Linked DNA regions of Homo sapiens. The protein of the gene in region 1 purifies or fractionates together with the protein of each later gene. This does not show direct contact. Each region holds a gene or a part of one and is shown in the gene's direction. Other genes may lie near its edges.

Region 1 (4,884 bases):
GGTCTCCAACTTCTGGCCTCAAGCGATGCACCCGTCTTAACCTCCTAACGTGCTGAGATTACAGGAATGAGCCACGGAGCCTGGCCTTTTTTTTTTTTTTTTTTAATTGTATAAATAGAGGTGGGATCTTGCTATGTTGCCCAGGCTGGTCTTGAACCCCTGGCTTCAAGCAGTCCTCCTGCCTCAGCCTCCCAAAGTGCTAGAATTACAGGTGTGAGACACCACACCCAGACAGTACCCACTGTCTTGCTGGCTGTGGGCCAAGACCACTCTCAGCCTCTCAAGTAGCTGGGACTACAGGCTTGAGCCACTGTGCCCTACAAGATATGTTCCCGTTTGATTAACTCACAGTCACCTAACCAAGGCTTGACATCCAGTCCTACTCACAGGCCTGCCCCGCTCAGGGGAAGAGGATCACACAGGGCATGTGTCCCAGCAGAACTGTGGGGGCCATCTTGGAATTCTGCTTCCACACAAACTTTTCATACCCACTTTGTTACTTCTCTGCTCCCTGACTGTGGGACCCAGGGCAGATGGCCTCACCCCTCCAAGCCTGTTTTTCCTGCTCCTTGAGGTGGATGATGCTAGAGCCCCCTCCCAGGGCTGATGGCAATTGGGGAGAGAGTCCAAGGGAGGGGCCTGGTGACACAGTTCTGGAGTTGGGGAAAGGTACATAGAAGTTCAGATTCTAGGCTGGGCACGGTGGCTCACGCCTGTAATCCCAACACTTTGGGAGGCCGAGGTGGGCGGATCACCTGAGGTCAGAAGCTTGAGACCAGGATGGCCAACATGGTGAAACCCCGTCTCTACTAAAAATACAAAATTAGTCTGTAATCCCAGCTATTCAGGAGTCTGAGGCAGGAGAATCACTTGAACCTGGGAGGCGGAGGTTGCAGTGAACCGAGATCGCACCACTGCACTCCAGCCTAGGCAACAGAGACAGACATTGTCTCAAAAAGAAAAAAAAGTTCAGGGCAGGCGTGGCGGCTCATGCCTGTAATACCAGCACTTTGGGAGGCTGAGGTGGGCGGATCACCTGAGGTCAGGAGTTCGAGACCAGCCTGGCCAACATGGTGAAACTCCGTCTCTACTAAACATACAAAAATTAGCCAGGTGTGGTGGCGTGCACCTGTAATCCCAGCTACTTGAGAGGCTGAGGCAGGAGAATCGCTGGAACCTGGGAGGCAAAGGCTGCAATGAGTCAAGATCTCACCACTGCACTCTAGCCTGGGCAACACAGTGAGACTCCATCTCAAAAAGTTCAGATTTAGTTTCAGTGTACAATGAGCAGTGGCTCTAGCCACTGTTGTTACTCATGGGTCAGACAGGCCCAGCGCTGGTCCCCCGTTCACCCTCTCTGCCTCTTTCTGTTGCAGGAAGCCTTGGGAGCAGGTCCCCAAAAAGCCAAAGCGGAAGAAAAGTAAGTGGAGGCTCAGCCTGGGGGAGGTGGGGAGAGTTGGGAGCGGTGGGAATATGGAGATGGAGGCCCAGAGAGGCCAGGTCGCTGCCCTAGGCAGCACAGTTGGAACCAGCAGAGCCCGACCTCAAACCCGGGTCTGCGTGTCTTGTGTCTCAGGCGCAGTGTCCTTGGCTCCCTCATTCTCTTGCTCCCGGCATGGGAGTCAGCCAGGGGAGAGCCGAGCAGAGGGAACAGCTTTTGCAGAGCCCTAAGGGCAGGGGGAGCCAAGCACTGGTGGTTAGAGGGGAGGTCTGGAGCTTGCTCCTCCTGTCCTGCTGGCCACCAGTTGGTGAGAGCTTGAACTGTCAGGGTCTGCACAGCTCTGAGCCCTGGAGCTGGGGGTCCCAGGCCATGTCCAGCAGGGTGAAGGCCAGCTGGTGGCAGTGAGCCCCTCCCTTCTTAGGTTTCTCCAGAGGCAGGGGTGAGCTATGACCTTGATCCTGAATCCTCAAGGGATGAGGAGCGCATTGAGGAGGGAAAGGGCTGGGCCGGAGAGGCGGCTGTGGGTGACGACTCTGTTGCCCTCATGATTGGAGACTGTGAGCACATTCCCTAGACCCAAACACCTCTTCTGGGCCCCTCTTCATCTCCCGGCCCACAGGGTAGGAGTGGGGGACATGCTGTCCTCGCACTTGGCTGAGGGACCAGGACCATCACAAGAGTCAGATACCATTTCCCAGCACTCACTGTGTGCCCAGCCTTGTTCTGTGTCCTGGCGATGTCTTCACTCCCTTCCTCCTGCCTGGCAGCCCTCCGGGATGGGAATCCCTTATTCTCCCCAGCCTAGAGGAGGCACCTGGGGCTCAGAGAAGCCAAGTCACTTGCCTGGAGCTACCCAGCTTGGAAGGGGCAGAGCCAGGATTCAAACCCAGGCGGTCCGGCTCCACCATGCCCGCCCGCTATGCAGCGTTCTCTCATCCAGCAAATGTTCCTGGAGCACCTGCTATGAACCAGGCCCTTTGGGGGCACTGGGGGTACAGGAGGAGCAAAACAGCAGTGTTCCTGCTCTTGAGGAGCTGACATTCTGGTGGGAGAGACAGACAGGGCACATGTAAACAAATGGCCACAGATGGCATCTAGGTACTACCTGGAGAAAACAGACAGCAAAGTTAAGGTCGGCTAGAGTGACTGGGCAGGGAGTGGCCTCTTGGAGGGGATGCATTTGGGGGAGACCTGAGTGAAGTGGGGAGGGAGCAAGACAGTTATCTAGAGGAAGCAGGCACAGCCTGTGCCAAGGCCCTGAGGCAGGGCCACACCTAGCCCGCTCCAGGAACAGCGAGGAGGCCATGTGGCTGGAGTGGAGTGCAGTCACCAAGTGGGTGAGGGCGGGGAGGTGACAAGTCACAGTGGGCCTTGTGGGCCGAAGGGAGGACTTTGGCTTTTACCCTGAGGGAGTTGGTCTTGCTGTGTCATCCAGGCTGGAGTGCAGTGTTGCGACCTTGGCTCACTGCATCCTCCACCTCCCAGGCTCAAGCGATCCTCCTACCTCAGCCTCCCAAGTAGCTGGGACAAAAGGCATACACCACCATGCCGGCCAATTTTTGTATTTTTAGTAAAGATGGGTTTTCGCCATGTTAGCCAGGCTGGTTTCAAACTCCTGGCCTTAAGTGATCCGCCTGCCTCTGCCTCCCAAAGTGCTAGGATTGCAGGTGTGAGTCATTGCGCCTGGCCCAGTGGATTCTGAGCAGAGGAGGGAACAGACTTGACTCGGGCATTCACAGGCGCCCCCTTGCGGCTGTAGGGGGTGGTTAGGGCGGGAGCCTGGGAGTCCTGGGCCTGAGGACTGCGCTGGTCTAGGCGTTTGATGAAGATGAGAACAATTAACAAGCAGCTAACAATTATTATGCACCTACTGTGCACCAGGCTCCACTGTTTACATGACTTTGCCAATAGAACAGTCCCCGTTACCTCCAGGGGGTGCCTCTCCTCTCTGAGCCTCAGTTTCCCCCTTTAAACTGGGTACAGGCCTGGATGGTACTCAGGAGGGCCTCCAAACCCATGGGACCCATAAAGCCCCGGTGGTTCAGGCAGCCATGTCACCATGGGCTGAGCCCTGTCCCTTATACCCACTCCTCGGCCCTGTGTCCATAGGGCGGCGACGCAACGTGAACTGCCTGAAGAACGTGGTGATCTGGTACGAGGACCACAAGCACCGCTGCCCGTACGAGCCGCACCTGGCGGAGCTAGACCCCACTTTTGGCCTGTACACCACGGCCGTGTGGCAGTGCGAAGCTGGCCACCGCTACTTCCAGGACCTGCATTCGCCCCTGAAGCCCCTCAGCGACTCAGACCCTGACAGTGACAAAGGTAGGTCTGCAGGGCGAGGGCACATAGGGGGCCGCCCATTTCTGGGGGCTTCTTACGAGCCCTAGGCTAGCATCACAAACAGAATAGCAGCCACAGTGGCTCTGGCTCTGGCTCTGGCACTGGGGCAGAGCAGGGACACGATGGGCCAGGCTGAGTCCTTCGTGGCCTTGCCCTCTTTGCGTCCTTACAGAGCTTGAGTGGGGAGGCAGTCCCTCTTTATGGAGCAGTTTGCCAATCTGTGCCCAAGGCCAGTCCCAGGCAGGGCTGGCTGAGGGCCCAGGAGCCCTGGCTTGGCAGCTGGGGCGGGGGCAGGCCTGCTGGGGCAGGGCTCGGCCCCCACAGCGAAACGGCCGCCTAAACCACCCAGGCCTTATGGCTTCATAGGCTGTGATGCTCTCCTGAGCCCTGGCTAAGCTGGCCGCTACCTCCTTTTCGATTTTCTCTGGCTCCCAGTTGCATTCTCTTGCCTTCTGCCTTTCCAGGCTTCGTTTCTTGCCTTCCCCCTCCATTCTGTTTCCCTCCTGTTCCCCATTTCTCCTCCCTTGAGCTGCCTCTGTCTCCTCCTTCCTTGATCTTTCATTTTCTGTCTCATCTCCCTCTCTCTCTTTCTCTTGTTTCCTTCTATTCCCCTTTCTCCTCCTCCCTCCCCACCTTCGCGGTCCCTGCCTCTCTCCTTCCCATCCCACGGGGCAGGGACTCAGTGAGGGAGGCTCAGTTGGCCCCGGTGAGTGGTGAGGGGGCTGCCGGCAGCCTCAGGGGTTCGGCAATGGCTGGAGAAGGAGCGTAGGGCACACTGCCAGGCGTCCTGTCAGGGCTGAGGGTGGGGCGGTCACCAGGGCTGAGCCTGCGCTGGCTGGCATCTCGGAGCAGGTGGCATCCCAGCTGGCCGAGGGGAAGCCGGGGGCGAGAGGTGTTCCGGGTGGGCGCCCCCGCCAACGACCGTCCCACCAAGTGTCGGCCAGGCTCTCAGCGTGCAGTGGCCTCTCGGCTGCCCCATCCCATGATCTGCATTCCGCCCTCCTCTGCCTTTTACTGCCCCCTCACTGTGTGCCACTCCTGGCCCTGCCCAGAGCCACCATGAATCTTCCCCATGGCCTTGTCATCAGCCCCACTTGGCA
Region 2 (4,884 bases), on another chromosome or scaffold:
GAGAAAGAAAAAGAGGAAAAAATACTTCCTCTACCCCTCACTTGCTGTTCCTTTTTGGAGCAGTAATTTTTCAGATTTGCAAGACCCAGGGGTGGCTAATCTGAGTGGTCTTTATTACCAGGGAGACCCTCAAAAGCCAAAAAGCCCTACCCTGTGTCTCCTGCCTCCCACAGACTCTTGACCACTCCTGTGACCAAATGGCAGTCACGTGGTCAAGACGTGCCTATGGCGGGCTTTGATGGGTTCCTGCTGTCTCAAGTCCAGTTTCTCAGCCAGTGTCTGGGTGGGCAAGTCAGGTTGGTCTCGTTCTGTATCCTGATTGCCTTCATTGATCTCATTGCCATTCTTCAACCCAGCTTTACCTTTAATGAAACAGAAATTTTAATCCTCATTTGACTCATTTAGTTCTGTTGGTTATTTTGCAGGAGAAGAAGTGACAGGTAGAATTTGTAGATTTTAGTACAAACTCCATTCTGAACCATTAAAACTTAGAAACTTTGGAGGAAACATTAGGAAGCTTGACTGTCCCATAATTTCTGTGGTTGTTTTGCTCATACAGATATATTAGCATCTAGAATTCTTATGTCCTGTTGTTCACTCTTAGATATTTAATACAAGATGCATTTCATTTGAAATTTTACTGTTTGGATGCTTGGATGGGTCATTTAACTTTGTTCTGTTTCTTATGAGTGGGACTGGGAGAGAAGGTTGGGTGGCTAGCTCAGAATACTAAAGATTACTTGGAGTGCAGATGCTATCATGTGGATCATTTGTTCAATTCAGTGGAGTATTGGTCATATCTGTGTGTCCCAGTGCAAGATCAATCAGACATGGAACCTGTTCTTAGAGACCTTGCAGTCTGCTAGATAAGACATGTATATATGTATATGTGTTGGAATGGGTGGGTTGGGCAGAGTAGGAGACTTGAGAAAGTGATGACTCTAGGGAACAAGGTGAGCCAACGTTGTGCCTAACACAGTAAGCCTGGGAAGTATTTATTGTGATTCAGTGGGTAACATTAAATTGATAACATTTGGATATGCAAAAATGAAGTGAAGGAGAGGCTGGAATTTTTAGTTGAAGGAAGGAAAAGCACAGAGGCAGAAGAATTTGAGGGCCATATAGTCCAGAAATGATAACGGAGATGCAGGTTGGAGGTATATCCTAAAGTGCTCTGAATTCCAGGCTGAGAAGTTTCTTCAAAAGTTTTCAAGCTGGGAAGTAATATAATTAGAGAAATGTTTTAGGAAAATGAACCTTTCAGAAGTTTTTAAGCTCTGGACTTGGCCAGAGGGTGGGGAAAGTCAATGGAGAAAAGGATGAGTTAACACAATGAAGATCAACATGTCTTTCACAGGGGAAGACCACAAAACCCCTCTGTAGTTGCATAGTGTGCTGACATTTTTTATTTCTGAATTAGATCCATTTCTTCAACATGTGAACAAAGAACTGAAAGAAAAAGCAATTCAGGCTGTTGCCACAAATCCCAAAACTACCCACGAGCTTAAAGTAAGTGTTGCTTGGTCATCCCGGTCACAAATAGAGAAAGCTCTAAATAAAACAGTGGTCTTGGGTTTTAGTGGCCTCCCAGAATGTATGATATACACCTGCAGTAGATGGCTTGATAGGGAAGCAGGGCATAAGGAAGGCTAGAAGAGCCTAGTGGGGCACAGTTGTAGCTAGAAAACGCACCAGGAAGCTGGAGTGTGGGTGCCAGATAATATAATGATGGGTAAGAGTGGATTTGGAGACCAACATCTTCAAGGAGCTATCACATTTTGACCCAAGGCAAGTTCATCTGCTTTTTTGCTATTCACTATTCTAGTCTGCTAGAGGGGGATAATAATACCTATCTCAAAATAGAATAGTTTACTAATACATAGTGTTCAGTAAAACAGTGTTCATTAAAACAGTAGGTACTACTGTTGTTCATTTGTTTGAAATATCTGAGGTAGGTCCACAAATAAATTATCCAGATATTGGGCAGTTTTTGCTTCTTTGTTCTTACCACTGATGCCATTCATGAGAGTTGGTCATCCTTTTTTTAATTGAAATTTTTATTGAGGGAATAATTATAGATATACATGCAGTTGTAAGAAATCATACAAAGACATCTTGTACCCTTTGCCCAGTTTTCCTCAGTGGTGAAATCTTGTAGAACTGTAGTATAATGTCACAGCCAGGAAACTGACATTGATATAATCTACCAGTCTTACTCAGATCTGGTTTTACTCCTGTTCAACTGCATATGCCTGTGCCTATATTTATATACAATTTTATCATGCATAGGTTCCTGTATCTACTCCTGCCATCAAGATGCAGAACATTTCCAGCAAAATACAAATCCTTGTTGCCCTTTTATAACCATATCTGCCTCCCTCTGCACCCTGCCCCACCCCCATTTCTAACCCCTGGTAACCACTAATCTGGTCTCCATTTCTATAATTTTGTCATTTTAAAAATGTTAAATGACTCATACAGCATGTAACCTTTTGAGATTGTTTTTTTTTCACTCAGCATGATTCCCTGGAGAGTCATCCAAGTTATTTCAGCTATCAGTAATTTATTTCTTTTTATTGCTGAGGTTGTCCTATTTTTAGATCAGCAATTTAGCTATAATGCAAAAATTCTTAAACTTGTATCCCACAAAATAGAAAATAGTATTCCTTAGGATTTAAACAAAATGGACAGATTTCTTGTCATAGAACTTGTCAACACCTTTAGTATCGAGTGTACATTGTCAATCTCCCTCAGAGGAATTAAGTTTTGTGATGTTTATCAAGGGTATTTGACCATGGAACCCCTTTGTTTCTAGAATGAATGTTGACTCTTCCCAGAATATATTCCACAGAACAGTGTGGGACAACTGATAGGGTGAAGAGCTCAGATTTGAAGTCAGAAACCTTGGGGTCTAGCCCTCAGCTCCATTTTCTTCTGTGTAAACTTTGTATCATACAACCTCTGTATGAACCTCAGTGCTTCCTAAACTATAACATGAGTATCATGGTAACTACCTTGCAGGGCTGTTGTGAGGATTAAATGAGATGATCTATAAATCATGAAAAAATTCGCTAAATATAGTACTATGTGAATGTAATTTACTGTTATTCATTTCTAATTTGGCTCTTGATCTGTTTCTCCCCTAGTGGCCTATTCTGGGCCAGCTTTTCTTTTCCTCTAAGTTTCAGAAGTTGGAAACATTTAAACCCCCAAAGGATATTGACTTAAAGTCACTTCATCTCCAGAAGCCTCTGGAATCCACCTGGACTAAGACCAACAGCCAGTTCCTATCTGGTCCCCAAAAATCAAGCAGCCCATTCACCCCCCTCCAGAAAGAACTCTTCTTAATTATGAATTCTTACCGGGACCTGTTCTACCCGGAAAGGACTGCTCTGAAGAACGGGGAAGAGATCCGCCATGTGTATTGCCTGCATGTGATAAATCACATCCTCAAAGCCAATGCCCAGGTGCTTGGCAACAATAGCAGACGCCGAAGCCAGAAGTTTGGAGTGGGTGATGATGATGACTTCAGAGACCAAGGGTTAACAAGGCCCAAGGTGAGTCCAGCAGGAAAGCTTTGCTCTCGAGGAGGTGGCTGCAAGGCACTGCCATAGAGGTGCCTGACACTTAGCAGGAACTTGGGTATTTTAATAATTGACTGGCATAATGAATGAGCCCAAATGTGAGCATATTAAGTAGGCCAGGTAGTGTCAGAGCAGCACTGCAGCAGCTTAGTGGGCTGTTTCTGACAGTGGATGTAGCTGGAAACTTGCGAGAAGGAGGCACTTCATGACACTTTCCTTAAAGATAAACCCAGAGTATATAAATAAAACTCCATTATAAATCTCTTCTTTGTGGTTGTCAAAGCTGGATGGGACCTTAATGAGCCTTTTATCCAATCCCTCCATATTACAGCTGTGGACAACCCCAAATTCGTAGAAATTCATAGAGGGCCTTGCTAAAGAGAACCAGGGAAAGAATAGCAGAGATGAGACAAGAACCATAGATTCTCTTCACTAAGCCACATACATACGTCAGCCTTTGAAAGCAAAAATTTACATTTGCCACTGTAAAGTTATTGCTGCTTAAAGTGATGCGTTTGTATTCATAAGTCTAAGCTCTAGTGGATTTGAGGCCTTAACAGGAAATGGCTTTCAATTTTATCTACATTATTCATGATGTTATAGAACCAGGACTTGTCCCCCTGCCCTGAACTGCATCTCTCCGTATTGAAGAAGCCTCATCTTTTTAGAATTTTCTCATTGAGTTTAATAGGATTCTAGAAATTTGATACTAATGTGGCCTTTAGAGATTTCTTAGTCAAACTCCCTTGTGTAATAGCGGGGGAAACCAAAGCCCCGACGCTTACTGTCACCGCTGGAACAATAACCCAGTCCTCTTAAATCTTGGTCCACCATCTCTGCAACTGTACCAAGCTGAGTCCACTGCACTCCTTGGGGCTTGAACATCAGGGTTATAAGGTTGTTTCCATTTAGAATTACATAGAAGAATAAGAGGCAGATTATCTATGAAACATATTATAATTTGGTGAATTACGTGATTTAACTGGGGTTATGTCCATTGTTTACAATAGGAAATTAGAAATTAACCATTTTTTAAGCATCTTCGGTTTTTATTCTCAACAGTAACTTTAAATATTTTTGAATATGCTTAGAAAGCTGAGTCCTGTTTTTCCCATTAATTGTGGTCATTTTTTTTTAGAAATGCTTTATTGTCATTTCTGAAACACTGTATAGAGAATGCACTAGAAATGTAATGATGTGTTAATCCTTTTTCTTACCCGCTTTATTTCTTCTCTACTTGTTCCATTTATTTATTCGACATGTATTTATTCACTGTGTCTTTAGGATAAAAATATTGCAC
Region 3 (4,884 bases), about 10 Mb from region 1:
TCTTTGCAGTTTTGACTTGCAGTACATTTTATAAAATATGAAAGTTTTTCACGTAAGATGTAGCTTATGTAATATTATTTTGACCTCTTCTCTCATTTGGTTAATATTTACATGCAATATCTACATCCATCTTGCCACTTTCAGTTTTTTTTTAATCAATAGATCTCAGCTTACTGTCGTAGAAAGGCAAGTTGGATCTCAGTTTTTAAAATATTTAAATAAGTCTCTATTGAAAGTATGTCTCTTGATTGGAAAGTTAAACATATATATTTAAATAATTTTCTGAAACAGAAAGACATACTAATGTTATTTTATTAATTGTTTTATTTGATTCTTATATCTTGGTCACTCATTTTCTCTCTGTCTTTGTATCTTTTTATTTTTATATTGATATGCTTTTACTTCTTTCTTGTTTTGTGTATCTATACACACATGTTCTTTTTTGGACCTTGGGGATTACGTAAACCTCTAAAAGATATAACAGTATATTTCAATCTGGTAAAAAAGAACTTCAGTTGCATGCACATTTTTTTTCTCATTACTTCTCCCCTCAAATTTGTCATTGATTTTGCTAATTATATCTTTTTATGTTGTATATTTATTAACAGATGTTTATAATGATTTCTCTGATTTTCACTTTCAAATTTTAGAGAATAATTAAAAATGTTTTCTGCACCATTATGATAATGCTAAGGAATTCCATTTTGGTGTATGTGCATATACTTAGAAGTAAAAGTATATATGTGCATATAATCTTTCCCAGAAAGTAATGTATTTTTTTGTTGTTTTTTGTTTTTGTTTTGTTTTGTTTTTATTTTTTCTTTCATTATTATACTTTAAGTTCTAGGGTACATGTGCACAATGTACAGGTTTGTTACATATGTATACATGTGCCATGTTGGTGTGCTGCACCCATTAACTCGTCGTTTACATTAGGTATTTCTCCTAATGCTATCCCTCCCCCCTCCCGAAAGTAATGTATTTTTATTTGACTGTGTTGTTTTTGTTGAATCATGTTATTTTCAATAGAAGCAACTGCTTTCAGTACATTTTGTATGTAGGGTTTATGGAGTTCCAATATACTTTTCAGAATTTTGTTACTTTTGAAAGTTATTTTCTTTTTATTTGGCAGGACAGATTTGCTGATAGTATTATGCTTACTTGATTGCTGTATTTTACAGGAGTTTGACTTTATTACACACTTCCCTTCTGGCCTGCAAAATTTTTATTGACAATTCACTGGCTGTCTCATAAGACTATGCTGGCAAATGACGCATCACTTTTATCTTGCAGCTCCCAAGGTTCTCTTGTCTGTGACTTTTGAAATTGTGCTTATATATGTGTTTGTTATAAATATCTTTGTGTGTTTCCTAGTTTGTTTGTTGAGCTTCTTCATCTTTACATCGTTTCTTTCAATATTTTTCAGCTATTCTTTTTTATATTTATTACCTCCACAATTTGTTTTTTTGATATTCTAAATATTTATGTTCTTATCTTCATTTTTCTGATTTTCTATAGTTCTCTGTCTTCCTGTTTCACTCACTGAGTATTATTCAATTTATTTTCAATTTTTAAAATCGGTGTGTATACATCTTTTTTATAGTTTCTTTTTTAAAATTTTATATTTTTATGGAACCATATTGCCTTATTTTGTATACATTGTAATCCTTGATTGAAATTTGGACATTAAAAAAGGCTACCTGTCACAATCTTTATAATGTAGCTTTGTCCTGGCATAGTCTGAACAATCGTCTTGGTTAGAGATTCTGGGAGTCTCTCAAACATGTTCTTAGAATGTGTCTTGTCTGAGATTTTGTCTTTCTCTTTTAGTTAAAGGAGTTTATTCATGTTTCTTCTTAATAATAATCACGTGCTACACCTGTTTTCTGTCTGTGGTACAGCAGTCTCTCTGTTGCTGAAACATTTACCTTTGGTCTCAGCAAAGTTAAGACTGTCACTCCAAAGTATACCACCGTTTCTTTCAGCATTATATTTCAAGAGAGACACAAACCAGTGTCTGGAAAGGCTCCTAGAAGCAAGTAATAAAGATAAATGTGCCAGTATTTTACTTGTCATTAAAAACAAGTTGGCAATTTACTTCTAAAGACAGTATGTTATATTGGGGAGCAGAAAGAGCTCTGTTGGGTAAATGTACAGACTTTTACTTCTAAGTGGCTCTTTGCATTGTTCTCACCAGGGGCACTTCACACACTTAACTCATTTATAATTTTTTTCAGATGTAATTTGGTTGGTTTTTTTTTTTTTACATTTATATGTCTATAAAGGAATGAGGGCCTTTGGTATTTTCCTATGCCATCTTATTTATGTAGTTTGTATATTAGAGGTTAGATTTGTAAACTATCTGTGTCTAGTAAGTAAAGTAATTTGTTATTTTTATTTCTTTCAGTTATATGTTCTCATTTTCCCCAAGACCTTTGGGCAGAGCAGGACATTAAAGATTCTTTTCAAGAAGCGATTCTGAAAAAATATGGAAAATATGGACATGACAATTTACAGTTACAAAAAGGCTGTAAAAGTGTGGATGAGTGTAAAGTGCACAAAGAACATGATAACAAATTAAACCAGTGTTTGATAACTACCCAGAGCAACATATTTCAATGTGATCCATCTGCAAAAGTCTTTCATACATTTTCAAATTCAAACAGACATAAGATAAGACATACTAGAAAGAAACCTTTCAAATGTAAAAAATGTGAAAAATCATTTTGCATGCTTTTACACCTAACTCAACATAAAAGATTTCATATTACAGAGAATTCCTACCAATGTAAAGATTGTGGCAAAGCCTTCAACTGGTTCTCAACCCTTACTACACACAGGAGAATTCATACTGGAGAGAAACCCTACAAATGTGAAGAATGTGGGAAAGCATTTAACCGGTCCTCACACCTTACTACACATAAGATAATTCATACTGGAGAGAAACCATACAGATGTGAAGAATGTGGGAAAGCTTTTAACCGGTCTTCACACCTTACTACACATAAAAGAATTCATACTGGAGTGAAACCCTACAAATGTACAGAATGTGGCAAAGCTTTTAACCGGTCCTCACACCTTACTACACACAGGATAATTCATACTGGAGAGAAACCCTACAAATGTGAAGAATGTGGCAAAGCCTTTAACCAGTCCTCAACCCTTACTACACATAAGATAACTCATGCTGGAGAGAAACCTTACAAATGTGAAGAATGTGGCAAAGCTTTTTACCGATTCTCATACCTTACTAAACATAAGACAAGTCATACTGGAGAGAAATTCTACAAATGTGAAGAATGCGGCAAAGGCTTTAACTGGTCCTCAGCCCTCACTAAACATAAGAGAATTCATACTGGAGAGAAACCCTACAAATGTGAAGAATGTGGCAAAGCTTTTAATGAGTCCTCAAACCTTACTACCCATAAGATGATTCATACTGGAGAGAAACCCTACAAATGTGACGAATGTGGCAAAGCCTTTAACCGGTCCTCACAACTAACTGCACATAAGATGATTCATACTGGAGAGAAACCCTACAAATGTGAGGAATGTGGCAAAGCTTTTAACCGATCCTCAACCCTTACTAAACATAAGATAACTCATACTGGAGAGAAATCTTACAAATGGGAAGAATGTGGTAAAGACTTTAACCAGTCCCTAAGCCTTATTAAACAAAATAACTCATACTGGAGAGAAACCCTACAAATGTGAAAAATGTGGCAAAGCCTTTTACCAGTCCTCAACTCTTACTAAACATAAAAAAATTCATACTGGAGGGAACTCCTGTGACTGTGAAGAATATGGCAAAGCCTTTAATAAATTCTCAATTCCTAACAGACATAAGATAATTCATACTAGAGAGAAATTCTACAAACCAGAAAGATGTGACAGTGCTTTGAAAACACCTCAAACTTTTCAAAACATAAATCATAGTGTTGAGAAATCCTAGAAATGTGAAGAATGTGATAAAGTTTTAAATGGTTGTCACACTTGATTGTAGGTAAGGTAAGTTATACTGGAGAAAACTTCTACATGTGTGAACAGTGTGACAAAACTTTTAACTAATGCTCACACCTTCACAGGAAAGCATTTATACTTGAGAAATATTGTACAAATATAAAGACTGTGAAAAAGCCATTAATACATGCTCACATCTTACTCAACATCAGAGAGTTCATACTCAATAAAAACATAAGTGCAACTACTGTCAAAATATCTTTAAGAAAATATAAGCTTTTAAAGTGAAGAGTATTTTGAAGAAGAACATTGTAGTAGAATTGTAATATGTTTACTTGTATCACAGATCTTACTGTACACGTTTTGTATTAGAGGAAACCTCTGAAGCAGTTGCTCAAACTTTGTTCAATATCAGGGAATTTATATTGAAAAAAACTGTGCGAATGTAATAAAGTTGGAAAAATACTTTTTCAAAAACTACAGCTTAGAAAACACCAGAGAGTTCATACTAAAACATATTTTTGCAGATACAGGAAAAATTTTTTAAAAATTTTAATCATTAAGTCTGTAAATATCAGAGAATTTACAGTAGAAATATGTAAGGCACTGATGCTTCAGGTATTTTACTAAATCAGAGTGCTGAGTATAGAAAATAATCTAAAACTAAAATTGGTAAAATATTTGTATATAACTTTAAAAGTAGAAATTTTTTGCAGTTATTGCATTCAAAGTATGCTTAACTTTTTGAAAAAATTAGATTTTTTGAAAAGTGAGTAATAATGTAATTCAACTCTTAAATTATTTCCTGCCTTTTCTTCACTCCTATTTACATGTGAAAGCATGTGATCAATTGTTGCTGCATCAGATATGAGAGATTCTTTTTTATTAGGTGAGCATTATTTATAAACTTTGCTATGAAAAAGA
Region 4 (4,884 bases), on another chromosome or scaffold:
GAATCGGAATCACTGAGAGCCTTCCTCAAACTCTAGGTCCCCTCTACATCCCCACCCACCCAAAATTCTGGGATACTTCAACTTCCCTTTTGTTTGATGTCATCGTAGGATTGTAGACAGGGTATGTTATCACCCTCAAGTGTCTGGGCAAAAGAAAAAGTTATGAAACACTGCACTCATGGATGAGAAGTATGTTACTGTTCACAAAGGAACACAAAGGTGTTTGCTACTCACCCCTAAGCAGAGGCAGACCTTTCCCGGCTTTCGTGTCAGAAACCTTCTGTTAATCTGCATAGAACATTGTTCAGGCCTAGGGTCACGTCACCTCATTCCACAAATGACATGTGACAGCTTGGTATTTATGTTCTGCTGACAGGTTTTTTATTTATAATTACAAAATCCTTCCAGTGATATGGTGGTTACCATTCAAAAGCCTATCATACAAAGGAAATTGCATTTTACTATTATTTTTTTGACCTGGGGTCTTGCTCTGTCAGCCAGGCTGGAGTGCAGTGGTGTAATCTCAGCTCCCTGCAACCTCTGCCTCCCTGTCTTAAGCCATTCTCCCACCTCAGCCTCTCGAGTAGCTGAGACTCAGGTGCACACCATCACACCCAGCTGATTTTTGTGTTTTTGTAGAGATGGGCTTTCACCATGTTCCCAGGCTGGTCTCAAACTCCTGGGCTCAAGAAATCCTCCTGCCTCAGCTTCCCAAAGTGCTGGGATTTCAGGTGTGAGCCACCATGCCCGGCCGGAAATAGCATTTTATTTTGCAATTTTCAAATATATCAGATTATGTAAACTCCCACAACCACAAATCTCAAATATTTTCAAACCGCATTAACTTAGAATTTAGTGTGCCAGACACTGCTGGATGAGGAACTGAATAAAATACTAGACCTGACCTCAGAGAGCTCCCAGGTTAGTTGAGAGGCATAAAGGGGAAGAAATAATTAACCGTGGGACAAGTGCAGTGGCAGAGGTACGTACATACAAAGTGTTTTTGGGAGGGGCACATAAGACTGCTTGGAGAGTTAAGGTTGATGTTGAAAGGGCATGAGGTTTGAGCTGGGTCTTAAGAGATGGGTAGAGGTTCAGCAAGCAGAGAAAGAATAAGAGGGCATTTTCAGCCAGGGAAATAGCACAGTTGACAACATGCAATGTTTTGCCACTCTAGAAAAGCACTGGATTTTCTTTGTTTGTTGACAATTTAATCATATTTTACAGTTTGCTACTTTTGTTTTAACATACACTCTTATCTTTTAGGGGGCCACTGAATGGTCTGACTGTTTCCATATTGCTGGTGATAATAATCCACTGGCTGTGAATAGAGCAGCAAATAACATTGCATCTTTATTGACCAAGAGCCAAATTAAAGAAGGGTAAAAATTTAAAAGATTTCTTAGCATCTTTTAGAGTTAGAGAATCACTTTTTATATTGACTTTATGAATTAAAACTCCCAGTGCATTGTGACGTCATTGTAACCAAAATGAATATACTATGAGACTCCATTTACATTTTTAAAGTTTATTGAAAATAAGTTATATTTTTAAAATATTATTTTAGCGATAATTTCCCCACCATATGCAATTTTTCATTTGTCTTATTCATATGTCTTTTCCCCTACATATTGGAAGAATATTTTATAGACTCATTTTAATTTCACAAAATTTTAAACAGTATATTTTTACATAGGCTTCTTTTTTGCTTTGGGTACAGGGTCTCATTTTGTCACCCAGGCTGGAGTGCAGTGACATGATCATGGCTCACTGTAGCCTCAACCTACTGAGCTCAAGCAATCCTCCTGCCTTGGCCTCCCTAGTAGCTAGGAATACAGGCATGTGCCACCATGCCCAGCTAATTTTTTAAAATCTTCGTAGAGATGGGGGTCTTGCTGTTTTGTCCAGGCTGGTGTCAAACTCCTGGCCTCAAGAGATTCTGCCGCTTCAGCCTTCCAAATTGCTGGGATTAGAGACGAGTCACCACACCTGGACCATAGTCTTTAAAGTCACTACATAAATTCCATCGTATAGAAATACTGCAGTTTATATAGCCTCGCCTCTATTTTATTACTAAGTCATTGGTTATATATTTCATTGTCTCTCTGATCTAATTTTTTAGGACAGTGCTTCTCAAACATTAATGTACATGTGAATCACCTAGGAGTACTGTTAACACAGATCTGATTTAGTAGTTTGGGATGGGACCTAAGAGTCTGCATTTTCCAGGAAACTCCAGGACAATGCTGATGCTGCTGGTCTATGTATCAACATTAAATCCTTTTACGTGTATTAAGACAAGTAGTTGGAAGGCTTCAATTTTCTTAAATACTGATTTATTGTGATGAATTAATTTTGAATGGTTGTTTCATATTTATTGAGGGTTTTTTTTAATGAGCCTAGTATATGGCCAGTCTTTTTTTTTTTTAATTAAAACTGATAAACATTTAAACAAACGTACCTTTCTAGCTTCTGAATATTTTATCTTGTTTGTACCTACACTGTCTGTTCAACCCGTACTTTTTTTTTTTTTTTTTTTTTTTTTTTTTTTTTTTTTTTTTGAGACGGAGTCTCACTCTGTCGCCCAGGCTGGAGTGCAGTGGCTTGATCTCGGCTCACTGCAAGCTCCGCCTCCCGGGTTCACGCCATTCTCCTGCCTCAGCCTCCCAAGTAGCTGGGACTACAGGCACCCGCCACCATGCCCGGCTTATTTTTTTTTTGTATTTTTAGTAGAGACGGGTTTTCACCATGTTAGCCAGGATGGTCTCAATCTCCTGACCTCATGATCTGCCCACCTTGGCCTCCCAAAGTGCTGGGATTACAGGCATGAGCCACTGTGCCCGGCCTCAACCTGTACATTTCTATCCATTTTACTTTGGTTTTTAATATTTTTTGCCTTTTGTTTTGTGCAGTTATTGGTATGCGGTTATAATACATATTTTATGTGTACTTTTAAAAATTATGTAATGATTGCTTTTATTGCATTTTTTTCTTAAATTCTTCATTAAATGTCAATTAAATCCTTAATTTCTGCTGATAACCTTTGACTTATCTTCAGTTCTTAGCCTGTGCATTATTTTGTTTCTTAAACCAGTTGCTTTGCCTTAATGAGGAGGATTTAAATCCTTTGTATTTATTATTATTCATTCTGTCTTCTGTCATCTATATTTTTTATCTTAACTTTTTTCTTAGTCTTGTTTTATATAGCATGGCACATATTTTCCTTTTGGTTTTTCATCTTGAAACAATTACCTATATATTTGCCAATTTTACTATCTGTTTTTCTTTTAGGCCTCCTGTTATTACTAGTTTTACAAACTTTATTCTTCAGATACATCACCCCATTATCTATTCTTTAGTATTGTTTTTCTCCAGTGTATGTTTTATCAGCAACTTAAATTTTTGTATCATCGGTTATGTAATTTACTGCTTCAGCATTGTTTTTAAAGTTGTCTTTTGCAGTTCTCTGCATTACAATCATGTTTTCAGTTTGTTTCCCTTTTTTCTGAGACGGGGGTCTTGCTCTGTCACCCAGGCTGGAGTAAAGCGGCACAATCCTAGCTCACTGCATCTTTCAACTCCTGGACTCAAGTGATCCTCCCACCTCAGCCTCCTGAGTAGCTGGGACTATAGGTGTGTGCCATCATGCCCTGCTAACTTCTTAAAAAAGTATTTTAGAGACAAGGTCTCACAGTGTTGCTCAGCTGGTCTCAAATTCCTGGAGTCCAGTGATCCTCCCACCTCAGCCCCTGAAAGTGCTGATTATAGGCACAAGCTACCATGCCCAGCCTGACCTATTTTTTACCTTTGTGCCATTTCTTAAATTTTGAATAGGTTGATATTATCACTGATATCCTTAGCAGTTTATGTTTTGCTGTAGCAGTCTCTCTTCAGAAACAAAAATTGTTGTAATAACTTTATGCTTCACAGTATGTTGAAGCACCTTTCCTTTGTCCCCACAGCAAACCCTCCTGGGGCTTGCCCATAGATGCTGTTCAGTGGGATATCTGCAATCTGCCATTGAGAACTGGCTCTGTGGATATTATTGTAACAGATTTGCCATTTGGAAAAAGGTGAGAAATACTAGTACCTGCTTGTCTTCTAAATATGTCATTATTTTCCTTGCGTTTATTCTAAGTCAGGAAAAAAATCTTGAATTTTAGCAGACTTAGCAGAGCTGTTTTTCACTTAACAACATGATGGATTCACCCATTATGTTTCTTCCGAGAACTCAGGAATGTATTAACTACATTTGGAATCCTGACCATCATGGGAGGTTCATTTTTAAATTACCTGTAATTCACTTTCTAGCCCATTCTTGAATTATATATCCTACACAAAAAGGTGGTAGAAGACTTGGTTCTCATTCTGTTTCTCAGCATAAATGATTCTTTTTTTTTTTTTGGAGACAGAGCCCTGCTCTGTTGCCCAGGCTGGAGTGCAGTGGTATGATCTCGGCTCACTGTAACCTCTGCCTCCCGGGTTCAAGCGATTCTCCTGCCTCACCCTCCTGAGTAGCTCGGATTTCAGGCACATGCCATCATGCCCAGCTTATTTTTGTATTTTTAAAAGACAGGGTTTCACCATATTGGCCAGGCTGGTCTCAAACTCCTGACTTCAGGTGATCTGCCCGCCTCAGCCTCCCAAACTGCTGGGATTACAGGCATGAGCCACCAAAACACCTGGCCTAAATGATTTCTAATCACTTGTTTGGTTTATACAGTTTGACTGCTTATTATACTAAGAGGACAAGTCATATAACTAACACAGTTGTCTAAAAAAAATTTTTTTGATTCAGAATTCTAAGCAGTTTACTAACTCAACTTATTTCATAGACATGTAATGGCAAAGGTCTGGTTTCTAAAACTACAGCTATTTTTCATG

What was found. The genes of interacting proteins can lie anywhere in the genome.
Region 2: the proteins of ZNF653 (region 1) and UTP25 purify together in Homo sapiens (affinity purification with mass spectrometry; one large-scale study listed by BioGRID and IntAct). This does not show direct contact.
Region 3: the proteins of ZNF653 (region 1) and ZNF100 purify together in Homo sapiens (affinity purification with mass spectrometry; one large-scale study listed by BioGRID and IntAct). This does not show direct contact.
Region 4: the proteins of ZNF653 (region 1) and THUMPD3 purify together in Homo sapiens (affinity purification with mass spectrometry; one large-scale study listed by BioGRID and IntAct). This does not show direct contact.

The regions. Positions count from the first base shown.
Region 1 is NC_000019.10:11,494,832-11,499,715, reverse strand, and holds part of ZNF653 (zinc finger protein 653), read left to right. Parts: intron 1-1,376; coding exon 1,377-1,420; intron 1,421-3,550; coding exon 3,551-3,766; intron 3,767-4,093; exon of another isoform or gene 4,094-4,172; intron 4,173-4,884. UniProt on the Homo sapiens protein: Transcriptional repressor. May repress NR5A1, PPARG, NR1H3, NR4A2, ESR1 and NR3C1 transcriptional activity.
Region 2 is NC_000001.11:209,833,655-209,838,538, forward strand, and holds part of UTP25 (U3 small nucleolar RNA-associated protein 25 homolog), read left to right. Parts: intron 1-1,420; coding exon 1,421-1,509; intron 1,510-3,146; coding exon 3,147-3,557; intron 3,558-4,884. UniProt on the Homo sapiens protein: Component of the ribosomal small subunit processome for the biogenesis of ribosomes, functions in pre-ribosomal RNA (pre-rRNA) processing. Essential for embryonic development in part through the regulation of p53 pathway.
Region 3 is NC_000019.10:21,725,513-21,730,396, reverse strand, and holds part of ZNF100 (zinc finger protein 100), read left to right. Parts: intron 1-2,407; coding exon 2,408-3,714; 3' UTR 3,715-4,884.
Region 4 is NC_000003.12:9,379,237-9,384,120, forward strand, and holds part of THUMPD3 (tRNA (guanine(6)-N(2))-methyltransferase THUMP3), read left to right. Parts: intron 1-1,266; coding exon 1,267-1,382; intron 1,383-3,962; coding exon 3,963-4,073; intron 4,074-4,884. UniProt on the Homo sapiens protein: Catalytic subunit of the THUMPD3-TRM112 methyltransferase complex, that specifically mediates the S-adenosyl-L-methionine-dependent N(2)-methylation of guanosine nucleotide at position 6 (m2G6) in tRNAs.